Homo sapiens: one gene and its partners. The protein of the gene in region 2 purifies or fractionates together with the protein of the main gene of each other region. This does not show direct contact. Each region holds a gene or a part of one and is shown on either strand. Other genes may lie near its edges. The genes, in order: ANGEL2, CDO1 and RERE.

Region 1 (3,653 bases), on a different chromosome or scaffold from region 2:
TATCAAACACACAGCAGTTTGAGATATTTTTTCTATTTCCAGCTCTGTAAACAATCTTTAGAAGAAAATATAAATGAAATACTTAAGAATGTTAAGGGTAATTTGTGGTTGACAACTACATAAGAAACTCATCCAGCAACCATTCTGTAGTTGCATAAAGCCAGAGACACCGGGCCACAGCCCTGTAGCAGTTTATAAGGTGAATGGAGAATAAATTAGTATAATTTAGTCCCAGATAGTCAGCACCCACAGAAGTGAAGATGACATGCTCTTTTTGAAATGCTGATCCATAACACTCTCCTGCCACCAAGTGAACTTCTGTCAGCATGACAACTACGAAAACCTTACTATAAATTCAAAGCAGCAGGCATATTTTTTGTAGAGTAGATCTAGTGGCAGGAATAAGTCATCTCGTGAGTGTTACTAATAAGGTTATTCCCAGAAGAAAGGAGGGGGGAACAAACAGAGGGGAAAAGGGTAAAGAAAAAGAAGCATCCAAAAAAATGGAAGAGAAAAAAATGAAAAAAATCAGAAAAGAATAAAACAGCTGCTCACATTCCAAAGTTTTCTTAAAGGTATTTTTGTACTTCCAGTAATCTTAAACTGCATTTTCTTCTCCACTTTAAATCCTTTGGCTAATGTTTAAAACCTGATTTTCGGCCGGGCACAGTGGCTCACGCCTGTAATCCCAGCACTTTGGGAGGCCGAGGCAGGCAGATCATGAGGTCAGGAGATCGAGACCATCCTGGCCAACACGGTGAAATCCCGTCTCTACTAAAAATACAAAAAATTAGCCGGGCATGGTGGCGGGCGCCTGTAGTCCCAGTGGCTCGGGAGGCTGAGGCAGGAGAATGGTGTGAACCTGGGAGGCGGAGCTTGCAGTGAGCTGAGATAGCGCCACTGCACTCCAGCCTGGGCGACGAGCGAGACTCCGTCTCAAAAACAAACAAACAAAAAAATTATATAGACTTTTCTGACCGAATGTGGTGGCTCATGCCTGTAATCCAAGCCACCCTGGGAGGCCGAGGTGGACGGCTTGAGCCCAGGAGTTTGAGACCAGCCTGGGCAACACGGTGAAACCCTGTCTCTACAAAAAATACAAAAATTAGGTGGGCATGGTGGCTCATGCCTGTAGTCTTAGCTACTCGGGAAGCTGAGGTGGGAAGGTCACTTGAACCCGGGAGACAGAGGTTGCAGTAAGCCGAGAATCATGCCACTGCACTCTAGCCTGGGTAACAGAGCGAGACTCTGTATCCAAAAAAAAAAAAAAAAAATATATATATATATATATATATATATATATACTTTTCCTCCTCAGAAAAATCCAATATTCCAGAGTCAACATGACAGCATAAGCTGTGTTGCTGGCAGTGTAACTATGGTCCTCCAATGAAGGCAGGACGCCTCGGTAAAATTTAAGCACAAAACTATGATGACCATTAACAACATACTCAGTTCCTGTCACAGGAAAAACAGTAAATTTATGGCAAGCAAAAAGAAAGGGCAATATGAAAGACCTATAACTCAGAGGCTGACTGGAACTGGAGGGTAGGACTGCTAATGTAATTCTTGGGTAATAATTTGCTTGGATGTGTTTTATTGCCTCCCTCATATGCAAGTAATCAACTGATTTATTCAAATATATTACCAATCTGTCTATTTCGAAATATTTTTACCTTCTAGATCTAGAACTTCAACTGGATGTTTAGAGAGCTTTCTTAACTTTAACCTTGAGGTTTTAGCTACTGTGCTCTCTAGGAGAATTTAAGATTACATGCATTCCTTACCTGGGTGCCCAGCAACATCTTCCTTTTCTGCAGAGTAGAAAATATAATCCACAGTTATGGCACTTCGGGAATGACAGGTGGTCACTTCTGGAATTCCAGTGTCAGGAAAGTAATGTGAATAAACAGATGACAAACTGAAATGGTGCTGTAAATTTGAAGACAATCTAAATAGAAAAGAAGAAGTGTTTAGAATCCGAGTTTTTGTAACTTCAAGAATTCCTCCTATCTGAATTTCTTTTTCACTTAATTTCTAGACTAAGACCAAACATTAGGACAAGCTTTATTTAAAAAGACCATATCATAATTTAGTATTAATTTACTTATGCAGTGATATCTAAAACCCATCAATAAAGCCATTATAAATGTGGTTTTTAAAAAAAGCTCAATAATTAACATACTAATGTGTTTTTTCATTATTTATAACGTGTGAATGCCTCCACTTACTAAAGAACATGTATTCTAACAAGTTTTATTGTGTTTTTAAGAAAGAGAATCAAGGGGGTCTTCAGGAACACTATTTGGAATCCTCTAGACTTTTGATGACAGAGAGGCCATATTCTTCTCTAATTTTTCTTGCTATCACATATAATTTTGTACTGCATCTTAAAACAGCTTCTCTAATGGTTTATTATATTTGCCCCATGCACAAATATATGTGATGTTATGAGTAAAAGGTTTAAAGACTATTTTCTAGTGATACTTTATGAATCTTAAGGATCTTTTATGCCTTGAAGGAAAATAAAATTAAAAAAGAAACTTATCCAACAAACATTTACCAAACATCTTCTAAGTTCTAGGCAATATGTCAGGTGCTGAGAATACATAGATGAAGATGTTTCCCTTGCTTTTAAAGTGTTCATATGTCAGGAACAAAGGTAAATCCTTAAAAATGCCCTCTAAGTTTTATTAGCAACTTTTTATGTCTAAGGATTTATAATATTAAACATAAAATAGGGCCGGACGCGGTGGCTCACACCTGTAATCCCAGCACTTTGGGAAGCCAAGGCGGGAAGATTGCTTGAGCTCAGGAGCTCGAGACCAGCCTGGGCAACACAGTGAGACCTCATCTCTACAAAAAAAAAAAAAAAATCTAGAAAAGTAGCTACGCGTGGAGGCACATGCCTGTGGTCTCAGCTACTTGGCAGACTAAGGTAGGAGAAAGGCTTGAGCCTGGGAGGTGGAGGCTGCAGTGAGCCAAGATCATGCCACTGCACTCTAGCCTGGATGACAGTGAGATCAACTCTCAAATAAAAATAATAAATAAAAATAGGTCTTCTGCAAACTCTTATCTATCAATTTTTCAGTTTACAGATATAAGCTATGCATATAAACACTCTGTATTTACATAAAGATACAAAAAAGTATCTTTTTTTTTTTTTTTTTTTGAGACAGAGTCTTGCTCTGTCGCCCAGGCTGGAGTGCAGTGGCATGATCTCAGCTCACTGCAACCTCCACCTCCCAGGTTCACACCATTCTCCTGCCTCAGCCTCCCGAGTAGCTGGGACTACAGGCGCCCACCACCACACCTAGCTAATTTTTTTTTTTGTATCTTTAGTAGAGACGCGGTTTCACCGTGTTAGCCAGGATGGTCTCAATCTCCTGACCTCATGATCCGCCCGCCTCAGCCTCCTAAAGTGCTGGGATTACAGGCGTGAGCCACCGCGCCCGGCCTCTTTTTTTCTTTTAATTTTTAGACACCAAGGGCAAGTAAGGTATCTATTTTTTAAAATTATTATCATTATTGAGACGGAGGCTTGCTTTGTCACCCAGGCTGGAATGCGGTGGTGCGATCTCGGCTCACTGCAACCTCTGCCCCCCAGGGTTCAAGCAATACTCTGCCTCAGCCTACCTGGGATTACACGTGCA
Region 2 (3,653 bases):
TGGCAGGAAGCTCTGATTCATTTACCCAAATAATGTGAGGGTTGCTATCTATAAGGCACACCAGATTTCCAAGAAAATTCTGTTGTCTGTACATTCACAGTAAAGCTTTCAGAATAATTTCAGAAGTAAAGCATTCACACACCTTTCAGAATAATTACTTTCAGCTGGAGTCAGAGTGCTTGTGAAAATAGATCAGATCTTTAAGAATAGGTAAGCTTTTTAAAGGTCTTCAATGCAAAAACCTATAGAATCTCAACAGATAAGGAAGTGGTATACATCAGGGATAAAGCTGTGGTGAGGCCTGGTATGAACTGGAGTATACAAGCCTCATATTAAGGTGACAGCAGTGGCCACCCAGCTCCAGTGAGATCAACCTGGTTTCTTTTTCCATAGAAGTTGGAAATTCTGGGTTTTATATGAAATTTTGCCAATTATTAAAATATTCGGTGGGATATGTTAATTATTTCTGTAGACTAATTACCCAAATAACTTAAAAGCCACAAATTTTCAACCTCTGATTCTTACAGATGCAGGAGTAGGGGTGGAGATGGATAGTGATCAGGGGGAAGGATGTTGCAAGTACAAGGAAGAGCACAAGTGAAGGTACAATTGTTGTAAAAAATGGAAACTATTCAAGCATTGGGGGAAGGAAAGAAAGAAGAATGGGTTTGGTCAGTGGATTAGCAGGAGAGTAAAGTGAGCTCAGGGTATGGGCCTGCAAGACCAGCTAAAAGTAAGGACTTTCTTTGGTCAGCAGAGTTATAATTGGGAATATCTTGATCGATTTGGTGGCAGCATGCAACATAGGGTGGAGGAGAAGGGAGGACTGGGGCAAGGAGACCAAGTTGCCTATTGTAATGAGCAAAAGGTCGACCGGGCCTGGACCTAACTCTGCTTCATAAATACCCCCAAGAAAAGTCCAGTATTACTGTGACAGAGGGTACACCATGACCATAAAGGAAAAAGAAGCAAAGATCAAAATATAATAATAATGCCTGGATTATTAATAGGAGCTTCTCTAAAGGATGGGTGTCTTGTTTTTGCAGGGTCTTTGCTTGCAGGATTGTCAGCATGCATTAGATGATGCGTGGACCTGCAGTGTTGAACATTTGTTCAAAACTGTGCTTTAGCCAGTATATTATGAACACAACAAGCTACAGGATCAAAGAATTTGCAGATCTGAGAATTAGGCACCAGTTTTAGAAATAAGGAAAATGAAAGATCCTAGAATGTGTGGCTTGTTCAAAGATAGCATCGCTAATTACCTAGAAGTAGAACTTAAGTCTTCTGGTTCTATGCTTCATTCTTCTTTATGATGTGCACTCATGGAGCTAGATCATAAAGAAGAAAGCACAAAGCCTCATGGGGTGCCTACATTAGTTATGCTAAATTCATTACTTGATTAATCCCTGAAACTTTCTTGTAACTGTGTAAGTTTATTAACATTTTTTAATTGAGTATTTCATCTCGTTTTTTTGTTTTGTTTGTTTTGTTTTGTTTTTGTGTGTGTGTGTGTTTAATCTTCTTGAAGATCTCTCTCCCAGGGCCTCTTGACTGCTTCAGCACAGATTCGTTGATCTCTAGGCCAGGGGTGAGCTGTGATCCTGAGATTCCTTACAATGTAAGGCTTACATTCTCTCAAGCTTTCCCTTTGCTGTTTCCTGTGGCTGGATCCCCTCTTTACTGATCTCATGATTTTTTTTCATTCTTGGTTGATGCCCTTGTTTTGGTGGAGCATATGCTCCAATGGCTCCACAAGAAAGGATCCATGGAAGGTAAATTTTTGAGACCCCATATATTTAAATATCTCTATATTCAACTCCTACAACTTGATTGATAATTTAGCTGGGTTATGGATTATCACCTGATAAACATCTTCCCTCAGAACCATGAGGGTAATTCCTTTGTCTTTTAGTTTCTAGTGTTCTTATCAAAAGCCTAGGGCTGGCCGGGTGTGGTGACTCACACCTGTAATCCCAGCACTTTGGGAGGCTAAGATGGAAGAATTGCTTGAGCCCAGGAGTTCAAGAACAGCCTGGACAACATGTTGAAACCCCATCTCTACCAAAAATACAAAAATTAGCTGGGCATGGTGGCAGGTGCCTGTAGTCCCAGATACTTGGGAAGCTAAGTGGGAGGATCACTTGAGCCCGGGAGGTGGAGGCTACAATGAGCCAAGATCCCACTGCTATACTTCAGCATGGACAGCAGAATGAGACCCTGTTTTTGTTTTTTTTGTTTTTTTTTAAAAAAACCTGGTCCCATTCTGATTTTTGAATCTTTCTATTTTCTTTCTAGAAACTTTTGGGATCTTCTCTTTTGGTGCCTTCTCTCTATCCTCAGTATTCTGAAATTTCACAGTGATGTATCTTGTTTGATGACTCATTCATTGTGCTGGGTACTCAGTGGGTTTTTAAATCTGGGAATTCGTGTCCTTCGACTCAGGAAAACATTAACAGGTTATTTCTTTGAATTTTTTTTTAATTCTGTTTCTGAAACTCCTATTTAGATATTAAACCTCTTGAACTGTTCCTCTTTTTTTTTTTTCTCTTTCTTTTCTATTTTCTGTCTTTGTCCTTTTGTTCTTTGAGTCTTCCTCAGCATTTCCTGCCAACCCTTTTCTGGTTTCTGTTTCTTCAACCTCTTTTTGTTTTATGGTCCCTTTTATGGTATTTTCTCTTATTTCTAGGAAAACATTAATGATAGGTTTTTGAACACTTCCCCTGAGTAGTCTCTGTTGCAGGTTGCTTTTTTGTTTGCTCTGCCCTCTGTCTTTCATACTAGAGGCCTTGCTCAAATGTCTGGTGACCTTGGCAATGTGCTAATATTTAAAAACCAAGAACAAAAAAATTAATTGGTAACCCTGAACATGAGTGGAGCTTGTCAACTGGATTTCACTTTTTGATAGTCTGGCAGAGACTTTTTCTTCAGGAACTTCCAGCGACAATATCTTTAAAGCTTTTTTCTTGAGCCAATCAGATTCTCTGAGAAGTTGCTTCCTATCTTCTGCCTGGAAAGAAAAATCTTGTCTGGCAGCATTCTCGCAGCTAGGTGATGACTAAAGCAGGGATTTTTACCATTCAGTATGGAAGCTTTTGTTTAATTCACCTGTTTTTCACCTGATTTCCATCAGTCCCAAGTTGATCTCTTACACTCTTTCTAGAGACTAGACCTTACTCTGCTGCTGAAAAGAAAGAAGAGAGAGAATTGGTAAAAGGGTTTTGAGACTCTACTTCATAAACAAGCTTTAAACCAGTTCTTATATCTACAGCCTATCTTTACCCTCATTTCCAGAAGTACCTGGTGCTGTCAATTCCTGTGCTATTTGGAGTTTCAAGATATAAATCAGGTTATTTCTTGGTTTTCTCCATGGATAGCTTAGGATTTAGCTTTCTCTGCTCTGTAAAGCTATCCATCTTACTTTCTAAGCTTTCAAATTTTTGTTAGTGTTTTCTCTTTTCCTATTTTGTCTTTGTATATTGATGTCTTTTTTATTTTTTTACTGCCATTGGAGAGGGTTTTCAGGAAGGAGCAGAGGCTAATGCATGCGTGTCACTTACTATCTTTAACTGCAAGTTCAATTCTAATTAATATCTATTCCATTTGCATCACAATTGATTCATGATCTCAGATGACTCACAGAGATTTTACCT
Region 3 (3,653 bases), on a different chromosome or scaffold from region 2:
GTCTCTACTAAAAATACAAAATATTAGCTGGGCGCAGTGGTGGGCGCCTGTAGTCCCAGCTACTGGGGAGGCTGAGGCAGGAGAATGGCGTGAACCCGGGAGGCGGAGCTTGCAGTGAGCCAAGATCGCGCCACTGCACTCCAGCCTAAGCAACAGAGCGAGACTCCACCTCAAAAAAAAAAAAAAAAAAAAAAGGGTTAACATGTTTTGTTCCTTTCCCATGATTTAGATGTGCGTACGCCCTAAACAAGCAATCTGTGGTAACTCTGAGAGATTCTTCAGTCACTAAGAAATTCTTACTGCCCAATAGCTGAGTCTACATCAAAGATAAATACAGACAGTACTGTAACCTACACACATCATTTAATCGTTACAGCAGATTTCTAACTGCTCTAAAACCTCCACTCTGATCAATTTATATCACACAAATACCTTCTCAGTTAATCTCCAACCAAGAAATTGTAGCTGTGAATGCAAATTTGTCTGTATTAAGTTCTAGCACTGACTTTTTTTTTTTTTGCGGGGGGGAGGGGTGGAGACAGGGTTTTGCTCTGCTGCACAGGCTGCAGTGCTATGATGTGAACGGGGCTTACTGCAGCCTTGCCCTCCTGAGCTCAAGGGATTCTTCTACCTCAGCCTCCTGAGTAGCTGGGACTGCAGTCTCATCACACTCCCAGCTAATTTTTTACTGTTTTGCAGAGATACGGTCTCACTATGTTGCCCAGGCTGGTCTCCACACTACTCAAGCAATCCTCCCGCCGCCTCAGCCTCTCAAAGTGCTGGGATTACAGTCATGAGCCACCGTGCCCAGCCCCACTGACATCTTTTGAAATTTAAAAAACTCCTGTGTGGGAGAATGAAAATCTGGAACTTGACGTGAAGTTCATAACAGTAACAGCATTCCTCAGTAAAATGATTGTTCCAGATTATGGACATAACACAGTGAAGTATTTTAATCTCCTTCTCAGAAAAACATAAAAATGGGCAGCTTTAATCTGCTAATTACATCTCATACAAAATTCATGTCACTCTTCAACAGTAAAAGTAACTCAAACAAAATGATTTCACCTAGGTTTTACTGGCTTCTGTAAGAAAGGATCTTGTTTTGTTTTTTTTTGTTTTTTTTTTTGAGACAGGGTCTTGCTCTGTTGCCCAGGCTAGAAAGCAGTGGTGCAATCATGCTTCACTACAGCCTCGACCTCCCAGACTCAAGTGATGCTCCTGCCTCAGCCTCCTGAATAGCTGGGACTACAGGTGTGTGCCACCAGGCCCAGCTAATTTGTAAAAATTTTTTGTAAAGATGGGGGTCTCACTACGTTGCCCAGGCTGGTCTTGAACTCCTGAGCTCAAGCAATCCTTCTGTCTCCGCCTCCCAAAGTGCTGGGATTACACTGTGCCCAGCCTAAAAAAGGTGTCTTAATACACACAATACATCAAATGAAAAGGAAAGGCTTTGCTAGTGTTCAACAGGTTTTGACTCACTTGTTTCCCTGATCTCATCTAAAAGTTGAGTCTGTCTTTTTTTGAGCAATGCTATAAGCCACAATATACTGGTGTGACCATAATACATTTTCTGGAAAACCAAGCAGGTTAGATGACTACTTCTATTATTGTTGATTAGAGAGCCTGAAGCTCAAATTTTTGGAAAAGGAAGTTAGCAGGAGCAATACATCTCTGATCTTCAGGGCTTTTTTTTTTTTCTGAGACGGAGACTCGCTCTGTTGCCCAGGCTGGAGTGCAGTGGTGTGATCTCGGCTGACTGCAACCTCCACCTCCTGGGTTCAAGCAATTCTCCCGTCTCAGCCTCCCAAGTAGCTGGGATTAGAGGTGCACACCACCGAGCCCAGCTAATTTTTGTATTTTTAGTAGAGACAGGGTTTCATCATGTTGGTCAGGCTGGTCTCGAACTCCTGACCTCAGGTCACCACCCGCCTCAGCCTCCCAAAGTGCTAGAATTGCAGGCGTGAGCCACCATGCCTGGCCTAAAGGCCATTTTTAAAAAGTACCTCTCTAGAGTCTGGTCGATCCTGTCCCAAGGTAAAATTTCCTGTTTCCAAGAATCTTAAGGTTTACTTGTCTCCACCAAGCAGTCAATTCTGCAGGGTCACCACAGTCTCATTTATGATTGAAGATTAAAAAGCAAGCATGAATTCAAAAGACAAAAAAATACTAAGCAGATGGTCCAGTTAGAGAACAAGCAGCACAGGAAAATAAGAAAAGAACTCATGAATGCATAAACCAGGACACAAGAGCAAATTAAGGCAGACACAAGCAAGAAGTGGGTGAACCTAACTGACCAAAAGTGGGTCACATGTTTACCAAATTAAGTTTCCTACTCTTCTAGATTCCAAGCCTTCCTTAAAGTGTACAAAGCGTATTTATTTCACCATAATGCCAAGATCATTCCCCCACTGTAAACATTGGCAAGACCCAAACGTAAGGCTCCTTACCTCCTGGTCTGTAGACCACATCATCTTCAGTGATGTAGGATGTTATCTCACCGGTATCTGTCCTTTCATAACGAGACTTTTTTTTCGGTGGTTTCTTCTTATTCTTCTTCGTGGACTCCTCTGCGGTGGCACTATTGTTGTCATTGTCCTCGTCTTCACTGTGATCACTCTCAGCATAATTTTTGGCTCCTCCTTCCAAGGTACAGCTCCGGCGTGGCCTTGAATTCTCACTCTCTCTTGCTTTGTCTCTTTTCTCTCTCTCTCGGTCCCGGTCTCGGTCCCGGTCCTTCTCTTTGTCTTTGTCTTTGTCTTTGTCCGCTGTCATGATTCGCCACGTGCCTTCTTCTGTCCTCTCACGGCTAGGCCTCCGTGAAAGGTAGACAGTAAGCCTGGGCTTCAGTCTTCTGAATTTCTCACTCAATTCCAGGGAAAATCCAACCACTCCAACAACCCCAACGTTTCAAAAATGCTAGGAGAGAAAAAAGAATGGTTTTAACGCTTTTTCATATTTGTTTCCTAAAATAATGTTTTGTTAAATGAATCTCTTACTTATTCATGCTTTACACCTAAAAACTTCGCACAAGCCACAGGAGAAAAATTAAGTGTTAAAATTTAAAAACTACAGTTTTTGGTCTCAGCAAATGGTTTGGGGTTTTTTATGACACCAATAATAAAAACTGTCTGAATGCCTAAGAGTAAACTACACTTCCTCCACCTTACATGTTTTCTCCTTTTTAAAGAAAAAGCAAACCAATACCCTGGTAGACAACATATAATGGGTATTATTATACAAAAGGAGCTTCATAACTCATAATATTAATTTAAAGAGGAAAGAATCTGTAGTAAAAATTATTTCCAGGCCAGGCACTGCGGCTCATGCCTTGTAATCCCAGCATTTTGAGAGGCCAAGCCAGAAGGACCACTTGAAGCCAGGAGTTCAAGACCAACCCTGGCAACAAAGCGAGATCCCATCTCCAACATAAAATAAAATATTTCTACCTGAAAAAATAGTAATAGTTTGCAGCACTGTCAAAAATGTCTCAGGATAGGCCGGGCGCGGTGGCTCACGCCTGTAATCCCAGCGCTTTGGGAGGCCGAGGAAGATGGATCACGGGGTCAGGAGATCAAGATCATCCTTGCTAATGTGGTAAAACCCTGTCTCTACTAAAAAATACAACAAAAATTAGCTGGGTGTGGTGGCGG

What was found.
Region 1: the proteins of CDO1 (region 2) and ANGEL2 fractionate together in Homo sapiens (co-fractionation; one large-scale study listed by BioGRID). This does not show direct contact.
Region 3: the proteins of CDO1 (region 2) and RERE purify together in Homo sapiens (affinity purification with mass spectrometry; 2 studies listed by BioGRID and IntAct, with this or other methods). This does not show direct contact.

Annotation. Positions count from the first base shown.
Region 1 is NC_000001.11:212,995,368-212,999,020, forward strand, and holds part of ANGEL2 (protein angel homolog 2), read right to left. Parts: intron 1,952-3,653; coding exon 1,788-1,951; intron 1-1,787.
Region 2 is NC_000005.10:115,806,572-115,810,224, reverse strand, and holds part of CDO1 (cysteine dioxygenase type 1), read left to right. Parts: intron 1-527; exon of another isoform or gene 528-603; intron 604-1,531; exon of another isoform or gene 1,532-1,775; intron 1,776-3,653. UniProt on the Homo sapiens protein: Catalyzes the oxidation of cysteine to cysteine sulfinic acid with addition of molecular dioxygen.
Region 3 is NC_000001.11:8,653,523-8,657,175, forward strand, and holds part of RERE (arginine-glutamic acid dipeptide repeats protein), read right to left. Parts: intron 2,920-3,653; 5' UTR 2,776-2,919; coding exon 2,451-2,775; intron 1-2,450. UniProt on the Homo sapiens protein: Plays a role as a transcriptional repressor during development. May play a role in the control of cell survival. Overexpression of RERE recruits BAX to the nucleus particularly to POD and triggers caspase-3 activation, leading to cell death.